Linked DNA regions of Homo sapiens: region 2 is linked to region 1. Evidence: fine-mapped expression QTL. Tissue or cell type: whole blood. Region 1 holds a variant in brackets; the other region holds the start of a gene. All regions are shown on one strand. Distances are between the middles of the regions.

Evidence for each region. PIP is the estimated chance that this variant, and not a neighbour inherited with it, causes the effect.
Region 2: FNDC11 starts here. The variant in region 1 is fine-mapped to the expression of FNDC11 in whole blood (INTERVAL, PIP 0.96).

Annotation. Positions count from the first base shown.
Region 1 is chr20:63,522,167-63,529,096 of GRCh38, forward strand. PTK6 (protein tyrosine kinase 6) reads right to left here. Exons shown (of 8, transcript NM_005975.4): 8 at 5,835-6,930. It overlaps PPDPF (pancreatic progenitor cell differentiation and proliferation factor), which reads left to right. Exons shown (of 4, transcript NM_024299.4): 4 at 1-40. Among named protein-coding and RNA genes, the nearest start is that of PPDPF, 4.9 kb to the left of the region's middle. The variant A/C (reference allele first, on the strand shown) is at 4,127.
Region 2 is chr20:63,550,874-63,557,482 of GRCh38, forward strand. FNDC11 (fibronectin type III domain containing 11) reads left to right here and starts at 3,286. Exons shown (of 2, transcript NM_001319152.2): 1 at 3,286-3,333; 2 at 4,781-5,822. The coding sequence starts at 4,791. The coding sequence ends at 5,747. RefSeq lists enhancers at 2,098-2,187, 2,483-2,777 and silencers at 2,468-2,527, 2,548-2,697, 2,718-2,857, 3,128-3,377.

The DNA.
Region 1 (6,930 bases):
CCCGATGGTGTGTGCCTGAGCTGTGTGGCCCGAGGTTCCATTTGAGTGTGAGAAATGGCTGAATCCCTCCCGACCTCACTGCCTTGTGGGGGCTGGCCCTGCTCCCAGGCCTTTCTGGGCCTCCTCACGCTGTGAGGCTGTTGCTGGGGCTGATAAGGGTGGGGTTCACTGCTGCTTCTGGAGAGCCTTGGACAGCAGGCAGTCCTGGAGCTGGACAAGCAGGACCCAGGGCAGCCACTGAGGTGGGCCCCCGTGCCACCTTTAGCGGGGGGAAAGGGAGCAGGGAGGGCTGGTCCTCTGAGGGATTCAGGCCCCTTACCCGAGGGCCTGCGGGGCGGGGAGTAGCCTCTGGCTGTGAGCTGGGAAGCCCTCACTCTGGAGGGACCTGGTTCCTGCTGGTAGGTGTCTCCCAAGGGCCTCCCATAGGGGTGTTGCCCCAAGACAGGCTGAGGGGTAGGGGCTGCAGGCACCGTGGAGGGGTCTTCCTGCCACAGGCAGCCCAGCTTAAAGTGAGGGTGGCTGCATCATTCTGGCCTGGTATAGGCATGGAGTGTTGGAGTCCGGGAGTGCTGCAGGCTGGCAGGGATGGGGGTCCACACACAGGAGTGCATGGGCTGTGAGCTTAGTAGACTCCTTCATAACCAAGGTGGGTGGTGTCCCCACACCTCTGCCAGGAGCCTACAGGGATTGACTCAGTTCTGTTGAGAGGCAGCTTAGTGAGCAGGTGGGAGTCAGTGAGATAGCTGGAGACTTGATGTGTGGCCAGGGACATGGTGAGAGGAGGGGCCTCCGTGGGGTGGGAAAGGGTGGGGTTCAGTGGTGGGGGAGGGACTCTGGGGAGGGGTGGGGATCAGTGGGTGCTCCCTGCCTGGTACCCTGTTCCACTGCACTATAAATAGCTGTACTAGTTGGTGGGAAGCTGGTGGGAAGGCATCTGGCTTGTGGCCTCTGATGGCTGAGCCTTTGTCCTGTCCACAGGGTGGAGGCAGCCTCACCCAGCCATCCAAGCCGGTGGTCAGTGCTGAGGCTGGGTGGGGGAGCCTCCGATGGACCCAGGAGTGGGAGGCTGCTCCTAATGGCAGTTGAGCCCCCTGCAGCCTTTTGCAGTGTCCAGATGAAGCCCACAGAGACCCTCCTCCATGTACACACAGCTGTGAGGGTAGCAGGAGTTGGTGTTGAAGGGAGAGCCCAGCCACGCTCAGGTCCCCACCACACATGGCCTGGGGGGGCTCCGCCCTTGGCTGAGCTGGAGGGCTTGGGGTCAGGACCAAGGGTGGGTCCACCCTGCTTGGAAAGAAGCTGTCCTGGCTTTTGGAGTCAGCGGGGGAGGGGCACTGCCCGGGAGCTGGTGTCTTGTTGGAAGGGGCAGCTGGGAGTAGGGAGCAGCCGAGCCACAGGCTGCCCGCGGCATCGTCCCCTGCCTCGGGTCAGGGGGCCCCTTGACTGGAGGACCTCACAACCCTGGGGGTGTCCATGGCCTGTTCCTGGGAGCTGCACCCTCATCAGATTCTCTGTAGGGGGAGAAGTCATATCTTTTCCTCACCCATCACAAGCTTCATGGCTGAGACCTGTTAGAAACAAAATGCTTCCTCGGTGCCACAAAGAAATAGCACTCAAACATTAATTTTCTCAGCAAGGCAATTTTTACTTCTATAGAAGGGTGCGACTCGCGGATGGAGCAATGGTGAGAGCGCACCTGGACAAGGGAGGGGAAGGGGTTCTTATTCCTGACACAGGTAGCCTCTACGGCTGTGTCATTCCCCTGTTGGGTGGGGTTGGACTGCACACTCTAAGGTAATTCTGATTGACTATTTTAAAGAGAGCAGGGGTGTGACCCAGAGTGGTGGGGTGAGTAGTTTGGCAGGAAGGACAGGAACAGGTAGCTAAAGATGACTTAGGTCAGAGCAGGTGACCAGGGGCCGGGTGCGATGGCTCACGCCTGTAATCCCAGCACTTTGGGAGGCCGAGGCGGGTGGATCATGAGGTCAGGAGATCGAGACCATCTTGGCAAACGTGGTGAAACCCCGTCTCTACTAAAAATACAAAAAAAATTAGCCAGGCGTGGTGGCGGGCACCTGTAGTCCCAGCTACTCGGGAGGCTGAGGCAGGAGAATGGCAGGAACCCGGGGGGCGGAGCTTGCAGTGAGCGGACATCGCACCACTGCACTCCAGCCTGGGCAACAGAGCGAGACTCCATCTCAAAAAAAAAAAAAAAAAAAAACAGGTACCAGGATGAGTCAGGACGGAGCAGGTGACCAGGGGAACAGATGTGAACTATTGATTAAAACTGGTGGAAAAGGTTGTTTACTGAAACTATGCACGAGTTAAATGGAGAACAAAGAACTGAACATACATGCTGAGTCCTCTAAGAGAAATCTAGAACTCACTGTATCCAACAGACCCTTGAACAAAAGACAGATTAAACTGGGCGCAGTGGCTCACGCCTATATTCCCAACACTTTGGGAGGCTGAGGCAGGTGGATCACTAGAAGCCGGGACTTCAAGTCCAGCTTGGTCAACATGGCAACCAACACGGCAAAACCCTGTTTCTATCAAAAACAAAAAAATTAGCCAGACGTGGCGGTGCATGCCTGGAGTCCCAGCTACTGGGGAGGCTGAGATGGGAGGATCCCCTGAGCCCGGGAGGCGGAGGCTGCGGTGAGCCAAGATTGCGCTACTGCACTCCAGCCTGGGCGTCAGAGAGCAAGACTCTGTCTTAAAAAAAAAAAAGAAAAAGCATACAAACATTTAATGCGAGTTCCATGTGATGTGGGCCCCTTCAAAACAAAGACCAAAGAAATGGTCTATTTCACAGCGGAGCAGGAGTGAGCGGAGGATGGAAGGGTGTGATCAAGGCCCGACTTGACTCTGACATCCCTTTCCTCTGGTTAGGGGGCGGGACACCACGTGAGGGTCTGCAGGGAGAGGGTCTGGGAGTGGCCTTCCTGGGTTTTATGGCCTGCTTCAGGGAAGAAAGGCAGGGAGGTTAGAATGGCCTCAACGGTGAAATATTTATCTTTTTCTTCCTCCCTAATCCCAGAATTCAGAAACTGTTAGTGGGTTTGCATAAGTTCAATGAGAATCTGTTCTTGTAATAGGGCACAATTGAAAACATTGGTTATATTACCAAGGCTTTGACTGGAATGTCCTATTTTCAGATACGACTAAAGGAGTTAGGGTTGACTGCATGGTCCAATAAAGCCCCTTGGAAAAAAGCTGGCCTGGTACCTCACATACGTGGTTCCCTTACAGATGAGTAAAGAATGTCAATTCCTGGCAGGTCCCAGAATCTTAAGATACCTTAGGGACCTCAAGAAGAGAGGAATTCCCCTAAATCTGTACTTATTGCAGGCAAAGTCTGATGGCAAGTCTTTGCGATGGCTTCCTAGCCTCAAGAGGCTTTTAAAAGCCCAATCTCAGATTCCTTATAAAAAGTTCCAGTAGGCCAGGCACAGTGGCTCACACCTGTAATCCCAGCACTTTGGGAGGCCACGGTGGGCAGATCACGAGGTCAGGGGATCGAGACCATCCTGGCTAACACGGTGAAACCCCGTCTCTACTAAAAATAAAAAAATTAGCCGGGCATGGTGGCGGGTGCCTGTAGTCCCAGCTATGCGGGAGGCTGAGGCAGAAGAATGGCATGAACCCGGGAGACGGAGCTTGCAGTGAGCCGAGATCGCGCCACTGCACTCCAGCCTGGGCGACAGAGCAAGACTCCGTCTCAGGAAAAAAAAAAAAAAAAGTTCCAGTAAAGCAAATTTTAAAAGAGCCCACGTGTCCAGGTGTACCTATAATCCCAGCACTTTGGGAGCCTGAGATGGGAGGTTTGCTTGAGCCCAGGAGTTCAGGACTGGCCTGGGCAACATAGTGGGGCTCCCTCTCTACTAAAATACAAATAAATTAGCCAGGTGTGGTGTCACATGCCTGTCGTCCCAGCTACTCTGGAGGGTGGGGCTGGAAGGTGGCTTGAGCCCAGGAGGTCAAGGCAGCAGTGAACCATGATGGTACCACTGCACTCCAGCCTCGGTGACAGGGTGAGGCCCTGTTGGAAAACAAAAATGAGGAAGAACCTATGTGGTTAATCACTATTCTTGTTCCACTTACATAAATAACCACACCAGGTTTA[A/C]TGAGGCCAAACTTACTCTGCAATCAAATCAATCTTTTATTATCTTTGATAGAAATGTGTTAATTTGAAAACAATCCTACTTTTATTATCTTTGATAGAAATGCGTTAATTTGCAGCCGGTCACGGTGGCTCACACCTGTAATCCCAGCACTTTGGGAAGCCGAGGTGGGCGGATCACCTGAGGTCAGGAGTTCGAGACCAGCCTGGCCAACATGGCAAAACCCTATCTCTACTAAAAATACAAAAATTAGTCGGGCGTGGTAGCAGGCACCTGTAATCCCAGAGACTTGGGAGGCTGAGGCAGGAGAATCACTTGAACCCGAGAGGCAGAGGTTGCAGTGAGCCAATATTGCGCCATTGCACTCCAGCCTGGGCGACAGAGCGAGACTCCATCTCAAAAAAAAAAAGGAAGAAGGAAATTTGTTGGCTGGGTGCGGTGGCTCACACCTGTAATCCCAGCATTTTGGGAGGCCGAGGTGGGTGGATCACCTGAGGTCGGGAGTTCGAGACCAACCTGACCAACGTGAAGAAACCCCATCTCTACTGAAAGTACAAAAATTAGCTGGGCGTGGTGGCGCATGCCTGTAATCCCAGCTACTCGGGAGGCTGAGGCAGGAGAATCACTTGAACCCGGGAGGCAGAGGTTGCCGTGAGCCGAGATCAAGCCATTGCACTCCAGCCTGTGCAATAAGAGCGAAACTCTATCTCAAAAAAAAAAAAAGAAAAAGAAATTTGTTGACTGTAGAGAGAAAAATTATGTTTCAAAATAAAACTCGTGCCCCCACTATTAGACTCTAGCCCGGTTTGCTGTCTGGAGGTTTTGTCGCCCACCTGTGGTCCGGACCGGGTCCTGAACTTCAGTTTCCTCCAATATTTGCCTACAGCTCACCAAACCACTCTTTCCAATTTTTTCTTCCACCATTCCTCATGGAGTCACTGAAAATTAAAACTGCTCTTTTCCCAAAGCCCTGTAAGCTGAAGCTGCCCCACTTGATACAGACTTCAGAGAAATTTCCCCAGCAACTCTCGTACAGACGGCTTTCGTGCCCAGGCTGGGCGCAGCAGCTCAGGCCTGTAGTCCCGAGGCAGGAGGATTGCTAGAGCCCAGGAGTTCGAGACCAGCCTGGGCAACATAGCAAGACCCTGAATCTCCTAAAAAAAAAAAAATTTAAAATTAGCCAGGTGTGGTGGTGCATTCCTGTAGTCCCAACTATTCAGGAGGCTGAGGCGGGAGGATCACTTGAGCCTGGGAATTCAAGGCTGCAATGAGCTGTGGTCACGCCACTGCGCTCCAGCCTGGGTGACAGAGCAAGACCCTGTCTTCAAAAACAAAAACAGAAACAAAAAACGTTTTCTTACATCTGGAAAACAAAATATTAAAGAACCGTAATGCTTCAGACAAAAGTCATTAAACAGTAAACATCCTCGTCAGTTCATTCATTCCCATGTCATTAATTCTTGTTCTGGTTGATCCTGGGACAGAACTTTCATGGACCTGCCAGGTCCCTCCTTCGAGTTCTGGAAATTTGCACCCAATCCAAGGCTATGACCTGAACCAGAAACCTGTGCTCCAGAGCACCTGTCAGAATCCTTCCCAGGAATCTCTTTGAAGAATAAACAATTTGGGACTAGCTGATTGCAAAGCTTTCAGAAAAAATCAAAGTAAGATAATAACTGTGAATGACCGAAGACTTAAGATAGCCATGGCTCAGGATCTGATGAGAGTTTATTATATTCGTGACACGGTTGGCAAGGAAACTTGGTTATTTCTGTGGCATGCAGCATTTTAATGTAATAACCAAAATTATGACTGATAACATTGCACCAGATTTCTAGGAATAGCATGTGAGATAGGATATATATCATAGGATAACGTATCAGATTTCTAGGAATTTTATAGAGTTTCTGCAACATTCATATCAAAACCAAACCCGTAAATAGAACCTCCAGAAGACTTAGTGTGACTTACTATTTCACACGCTTTCCATCTCATGTAGCACATCGGATAAGCCTGATTAGTCTGACATCTGTCTTTCACAAGGCAGAAGACAAATCCTTTTGAGAAATCCTAGTACCTTTCCAGAAACTCCCAAAATTATTTTTCTTTCTTTCTTTTTTTTTTTTTTTTTTTTGAGATGGAGTCTCGCTCTGTCGCCCAGGCTGGAGTGCAGTGGCGCGATCTCGGCTCACTGCAAGCTCCACCTCCCGGGTTCACACCAGTCTGCTGCCTCAGCCTCCCACGTAGCTGGGACTACAGGCGCCCACCCCCACCACCACACCCAGCTAATTTTTTGTATTTTTTAGTAGAGACGGGGTTTCACCGTGTTAGCCAGGATGGTGTCGATCTCCTGACCTCGTGATCCACCTGCCTCAGCCTCCCAAAGTGCTGGGATTACAGGCATGAGCCACCGTGCCCCGCCTATTCTTCTTTTAAACCAAAAAAACTTTCAGGTGAGTCAAAACCAAAACCAATAAGCTTTTTATGACTTAACCATGGATGAAAGAGACACCTTCAAAATCAGGTGCAAAGGAGGCAGCCCCCCCAGCCCGGAACCACCCCACAGACAGTAGAGAAGGGCCCTTGTCAGCGCAGGAGTGAGGGGCGCTTTCCAGCACTGACCCAGCGACAAAGGTGAAGGTGGGAAAAGCCCCTTGTGGACGTGGACGGTGAAACTGAGCTGGCGCCTCGGGCAGTGATGCTTGGGCTGGCAGAGACCAGGGAGAGAGTTCTCACTGGTCATAAGGCCAAGCTCTCAAGACACAAGACAAACAGGAAAGAAACACCTGCCCCTGGGAGGAAAGAA
Region 2 (6,609 bases), 29 kb after region 1:
GGCAGTGAGGACACAGACCAGGGGGATGGGGTGCAGGGCCCTTCCTGGTGTTCAGATGGAGGCTTGTGGCAGGAGCTCTGCCACATCAGGCCACCCCCCATCCGGGTTTATGTGTCTGGAGGGCACAGCTCTGAGGGTCTCAGTGGTCAGCGTGCATTCTCTCCCCCAAGACTGGCCCCACTACCCCCAGGCTTCACCATCCTCAGGGCCCAGGGAAGAGAGCTTGTCCCCACCAGGGACAACAGATCCAAAGTGTTCACTGCCCGTGCCCTGGTGGCCACAAACAGGGTTGAGCAAGACTGAGCACAAACTGGCCCCTGGTGCCCAGCAGTGAACAGGAGTGACTGTTGACCCTGCACAGAGGGGACTATGCTGAGCGCAAGAAGCCAGTCCCAAGGCTGCATACTGAAAGCCTGCACTGATAGGACATTCTTGAAATGACCAGACAGAGCCGGAGAGATGAGTGGTTGCAGGGCTAGGGAGAGGTGGGAGGGAGCAGCGTGGCTGTAAAGAACATGTCAGGGTCCCGTGGGGGTGGCACTGCCTTGCGTCTGTATCGACGTCAAGGTCCTGGCGTGATTCTGCACTGCAGTCCTGCAAGATGCTACCACTGGGGATGCTGGATAGAGGGTAACGGGACCTCTGTGTTACTTCTTACAACTGCAGATGAATCTATACTTATCTTAAAAGTAAAAGTTTAACTTTATTATTATTATTATTATTTTCGAGACAGGCCTCTGTCTTATTGCACCCAGGCTGGAGTGCAGTGGCACAATCTCGGCTCACTGCAACCTCCACCTCCTGGGTTCAAGCGATTCTCCTGCCTCAGCCTCCTGAGTAGCTGGGACTACAGGCGCCCACCACCACGTCCAGCTAATTTTTTTTTTTTTTTTGAGACAGAGTCTCGCTCTGTCGCCCAGGCTGGAGTGCAGTGGCGTGATCTCGGCTCACTGCAAGCTCCACCTTCCAGGTTCACGCCATTCTCCTGCCTCAGTCTCCCGAGTAGCTGGGACTACAGGCGCCTGCCACCACTCCCAGCTAGTGTTTTGTATTTTTAGTAGAGACGGGGTTTCACCATGGTCTCGATCACGTCCAGCTAATTTTTGTATTGTTAGTAGAGACTGGGTCTTACTATGTTGGCCAGGCTGGTCTTGAACTCCTGACCTCAGGTGATCTGCTTGCCTCAGCCTCCCGAAGTGCTGGGATTATAGGCGTGAGCCACTGCGCCCAGCCATTATTATTCTTTTTAGAGACACAGGGTCTCCCTCTGTCACCCAGGCTGGAGTGCAGTGGCACCATCTTGGCTCACTGCAGCCTCATCCTCCCAGGCTCAGGTGATCCTCCGGCCTCAGCTTTCCAAGTAGCTGAGACCACAGGTGCACACCACCACACCCAGCTAATTTTTCAAATTATTTGTAGAGACAGGGGTCTCCCTGTGTTGCCGAGGCTGGTCTCAAACTTCTGGCCTCAAGGGATCCTCTCACCTTGGCCTCTCAAAGTGCTGAGGTTATGGGCCTGCGCCACCGAGCCTGGCCAAAAGTTTAACTTTAAAAAATTAGATTAGAAATCAGAAATTGAAAGAAAGGGGGTAGGGTGGAGCCCAGGAGAGGGGAGACATCCAGGACCTGCCTGGCCCCAAAAGAGAAGGGGAGGCTGCTCTGCCCCCACCCCGCTTCTCCGTCAGTGGGCTGCAGGGCCGGGGGTAAGGGGTCTAACTCCTACTGCTTCCCAACCCTCCGCGTCAGACAGCACCCCCTTCTCCAAACAACCCCGGCTTTGTCCCCTGGAGCCCTAAATAACAATAACAATAGCTGGCATTTATTGAGTTCCAGCCCAGGCAGGGAGGGCAGGGCAGAAACAGCACCCAACAGGACTGGGTGCAAGGCTCACACCTGTAATCCGGAAGGATCAGAAAGACCCAGGTGGGAGGATCACTTGAGCCCCGGGGGTGAAGACTGCCGCATGGGTGACAGAGCAAGACGCTATCTCAAAAAAAAAACCACCCACATCCACCCACTTCCTGCCAGGCCTAACCCCTGGGGCCTCCATGCACCAAGGGAAAGCTCTTCCAGGGTGGGGTCACCGGGAGGAGGGGGGAGGCTCAAGTTACAGAACAGCCTGGTAGGGGCTCAAAGACGCCCATCCTGGAAGAGGCCCCAGCACTGACCTCCGTGGGGGTGGAGATGAGGAGGATGGAAAGGGTGTCTTCCTCCAGCATCTTCCTGAAGGTGAAGGAGGGGCACCTTGGGGTGTCTAAGATTGTGACCCCAGGAGACCCCCAGCTAGCTGGGGTGTGCTGTGGGGGAACGGGGGGATCCCAGAGGCCCTGAGCCCAACTGAACAGATACAGACGGGACCAGATGGCCTCAGAGCTCCCCTGCGGGGCTCCCTGGAGCTATGGAGACCCCATTTATCCAGAGTCAGGTCGGTGCCTGAGCTTGGGCAGCCCCAGGTGGAAGGAGCCCATGGTGGGAGGAGCCTGTAGTGGGAGGAGCCTGTAGTGGGAGGAGCCTATGATGGGAGGGGCCGTGGTGGGGGGAGCCCGCGGTGGGAGGAGCCTGCGCTGGGAGGAGCCTGTGGTGGGAAGACCCTGTGGTGGGAGGGGCCGTAGTAGGGGAGCCCGCGGTGGGAGGAGCCTGCTCTGGGAGGAGCCTGTGGTGGGAGGGGCCGTGGTGGGGGGAGCCCGCGGTGGGAGGAGCCTATGATGGGAGGGGCCGTTGCGGGGGAGGGGGGAGCCCATGGTGGGAGGAGCCTGTGGTTGAGGAGCCTGCGGTGGGGGGAGCCTGCGGTGGGAGGAGCCTGTAATGGGTGGCATCTGTAATGGGCGGGGCCTTGCTGGGCAGAGCCCGCGGCGGGGGAAGCCGCCCCTCTCCTCTGTCCAGGCGCTGGGTGGTCCATCCGCCTGGTCACCGGCCACTGCCTCTCTCCCAAATTCCTCCGAGGGATTCCCGAGGAGTGCGCTCGGACTGGGGGGTTGAGCAGGAACTCCCTCCCAGTCACCCGAGGCTCCTGCGCCCCGCCCGAAGCCGGGGGTGCGTGGGGAGTGGTGCGCCCGCGGAAGGGCTCCGGGACGGGAACCCCCCTTGGAGCCTGGCTCTTGGACCAGCCACCCGCCGTGGCCCCTCAGTCGGGGACGCGGGCCCCCAGAAGTCTGGGGCTCTCCAGGAAGCGAAGCGGATGGAAGATTACTCGGCTCGGGGTCCCGGGTCCCCACCCCCGCCCCGCCCCCGGGCCGCAGCGTCACAAAGGCCGCTGGTCCCCAGGGCAACCCGCGGAGTGCGGAGGGAGGCTGGGCTCTGGGAAGTCCGCGCGCGGCTCCGCTTCAGAGGCAGGGCAAGTGGGCGCGGTCCTGGGGCGGCGGCGGGGGCCGGGAGAGGAGGGCTGGGGGTCTCGAGAAGGTAAGGGGCAGGCAGAGCGGCCGGGGAGGTGGGCCCGGGCCAGGGGAGCCAAGGGGAGTGTGGTGGAGGGGGTAGAGTGCGGGCACCTGGTGGTCTCAGGGAAGCGGGCCTGGGACCGGGGCGTGTAGGAAGCAGCGAGGGGCTCAGAACCACCTTTCCGGGTTCACGACCAGCCTCTCTGGGTGTTCCACCTGGGCAGCTGCTGGAGACTAGAAAACATCCCTCACACGTCACAGAGGCACGGTTTCCCTCCAGCGGTGAAATCCGCCCCAGCCTCCAGCAAGAGCAGGGCTTAGGCCTGGGGTCCTGGGGTCCTGCTCTCAGCTGGCACCTCACCCCAGACACACTCCCTGCTGCCCCCAGGGGCCTGTTCTCGAGGGATTCCCGAGGAGTGCGCTCGTGAAGTCATATCTGCCTCACGCCCAAAAGGGCAACCCTTCCCGGGCAGATATGACTTCACCACGTACCTGTGTGGCCCTGGGGAACTCAGCAACTGCTTAGCTCTCATTTGTGGGTCGTCCAAGGCCCAAGTGGCTGTGACAACCTGAGATCTCCAGGGTTGCTGGGAGCCGGGGCAGCAACCAGGGGTGCGGCTTGCTCTCCAGGGAGCTGCGGCAGAGCCTGGGGCCACAGCTGCACTCAGCCGGTGCACCCACGGACAGAGGGTCAGACTCGGCTCAGCACTGGGCTCAAGCCCTGGATGAGAACAAGAACCAAGCTTCTTAGCCTCAGGCTCCATCTGGGAAATGGAGTGTCACTTGTGGAGTCCATGAGCTCACCAGGGACAGGATCCCGGGTCCACAGCGAGGGCCCACAGCGTGGGAGGAGGGCTGCTCCTCCGGGCCCAGGCCTGGGCGCCCTCCTCCCATGCTGACCAGCCAGCTGGCCTCGTCTTTGGTGAGGCCTGTCTCTGTGCCCTACAACTGCGGTGAGGCGTGGAGCGTCCCCAGGGAGAACCGGAGCGGGAGGATGGCCCGCGAATGTCCCCGAGGGGGATCCTGTGCTGCTTAGGACCACGCCGTCCCCTCTCCACGGCCCCGAGGGGTGCCAGCAACCCCTTTCAGCAGCAGGGTTAGGAACTGGGGCCCTTGCAAGGCCACAGGTCAGGCGGTTCTGGCCAGAAGTCCGCAGTCCTAGTTCTTCCCTGTCCTGTCCCACAGGCCACTGGTTGTCAGTAGAGGTTTTTGCCCCTCAGTATAAACTGTGTCCAGATCTGTAGGCTGCCCATCCAGCCCTCCAGGCAGCCTCTTCCCATCGAGTTGTGCCCCCGAAGAAGGACAGAGGTCCAGCATGGGGTCAGTGGGCTGAATCCATCCCCCGAACATGCCACAGCCCAGGGGAGGCCAGCCTGCCTGGCAGCTGACACCCAGCCCTCCCCCCAGCTCCCGGATAATGAGCACCCATGTGGCAGGCCTGGGCCTGGACAAGATGAAGCTGGGCAATCCCCAGTCCTTCCTGGACCAGGAGGAGGCAGATGACCAGCAGCTGCTGGAACCAGAGGCGTGGAAGACCTACACCGAGCGCCGCAATGCCCTGCGTGAGTTCCTGACCTCGGACCTGAGTCCGCACCTGCTCAAGCGCCACCACGCCCGCATGCAGCTGCTGCGTAAGTGCTCCTACTACATCGAGGTCCTGCCCAAGCACCTGGCCCTGGGCGACCAGAACCCGCTGGTGCTGCCTAGCGCCTTGTTCCAGCTCATCGACCCCTGGAAGTTCCAGCGCATGAAGAAGGTGGGCACAGCTCAGACCAAGATCCAGCTCCTGCTGCTCGGGGACCTGTTGGAACAGCTCGACCATGGCCGTGCTGAGCTGGATGCCCTGCTCCGGTCGCCAGACCCACGGCCCTTCCTGGCCGACTGGGCGCTGGTGGAGCGGCGGCTGGCGGACGTGTCGGCCGTCATGGACAGCTTCCTGACCATGATGGTGCCGGGGCGGCTACACGTCAAGCACCGCCTGGTGTCTGATGTCAGTGCCACCAAGATCCCGCACATCTGGCTCATGCTGAGCACCAAGATGCCTGTCGTGTTTGACCGAAAGGCGTCGGCGGCTCACCAGGACTGGGCCCGGCTGCGCTGGTTCGTCACCATCCAGCCAGCCACATCGGAGCAGTATGAGTTGCGCTTCAGGCTGCTGGACCCGCGGACACAGCAGGAGTGCGCCCAGTGTGGCGTCATCCCCGTGGCTGCCTGCACCTTCGACGTCCGAAACCTGCTGCCCAACCGATCCTATAAGTTCACCATCAAGAGGGCCGAGACCTCCACGCTGGTGTACGAGCCCTGGAGGGACAGCCTCACCCTGCACACCAAGCCGGAGCCCCTGGAGGGGCCCGCCCTCAGCCACTCTGTCTGAGAGATGATTTTCTAATATTTATCCACTAATAAAGAAGAGTGTAAATGCACATATGGAATTAAAGAAGCAAACCTATTTATGTTTTAAAGGCAGCAGCCACCAGTGTTTTTCCTGGCTCAAAACATGCCAAGCCCCAGGCCTTCTGCTCCTGCTCTTTCCCAGGGGGAGCCACAGGCCGGACCTCCCAAGACAGCTGAGCCTGGAGCAAGAAGTACCAGCCCCTGACACCTACGGGTCCAACGACGACGACAAAAGCTGCTCCACGGGGCCTCTGCGGTCCTAGCCCCCGCCCCTCCTCACCACCCCCATCACCGTGACCGGGCTCCGGCCTTCCTTACCCACCTCCCTGGCTTGTGGGGCTCCCTCAGGGAATGACACTCCTAGGCCGTGATGCCTCCCACCATCCCCTGCCCAGCCTCGAGTGCTCATCAGCACGCCCGCCCGAGGAGGCAGCAGCACCACCGGGGATCCCTGGCTGTGAGCAGCTCAGCCGTGCCCCTCCATGCCCCGCCCCACCTTTTGTTCCTCAAGGGCCTTCCCGGCCCTGAGCTCCCTCTCTCCTCCAGGATCAGCTGCTTTTGCTAGGCGTCCAGCCCCTGCGTCCCCCCACCGCTCACCTTCAGGGCCGCAGCTGCCCCTTCCTCCCAGAAGCCTTCCCTGGCTGCAGGCTGGTGAGGTCCCCAAGTCCCCCTTCCTAGAGGCGCCTTCTCATCCTCTCTGCAGGCACTTCTCAAGCTATTGCAGAACTACTCTTATTTCATGACGGTCCAAGAATAGACATGGTCTTCAAGGCAGGGCCCGTCCAGCACACCAACGGGGCCACAGTCCTGGAGACTCCATGCTCCACCCCTCCCTCCACAGA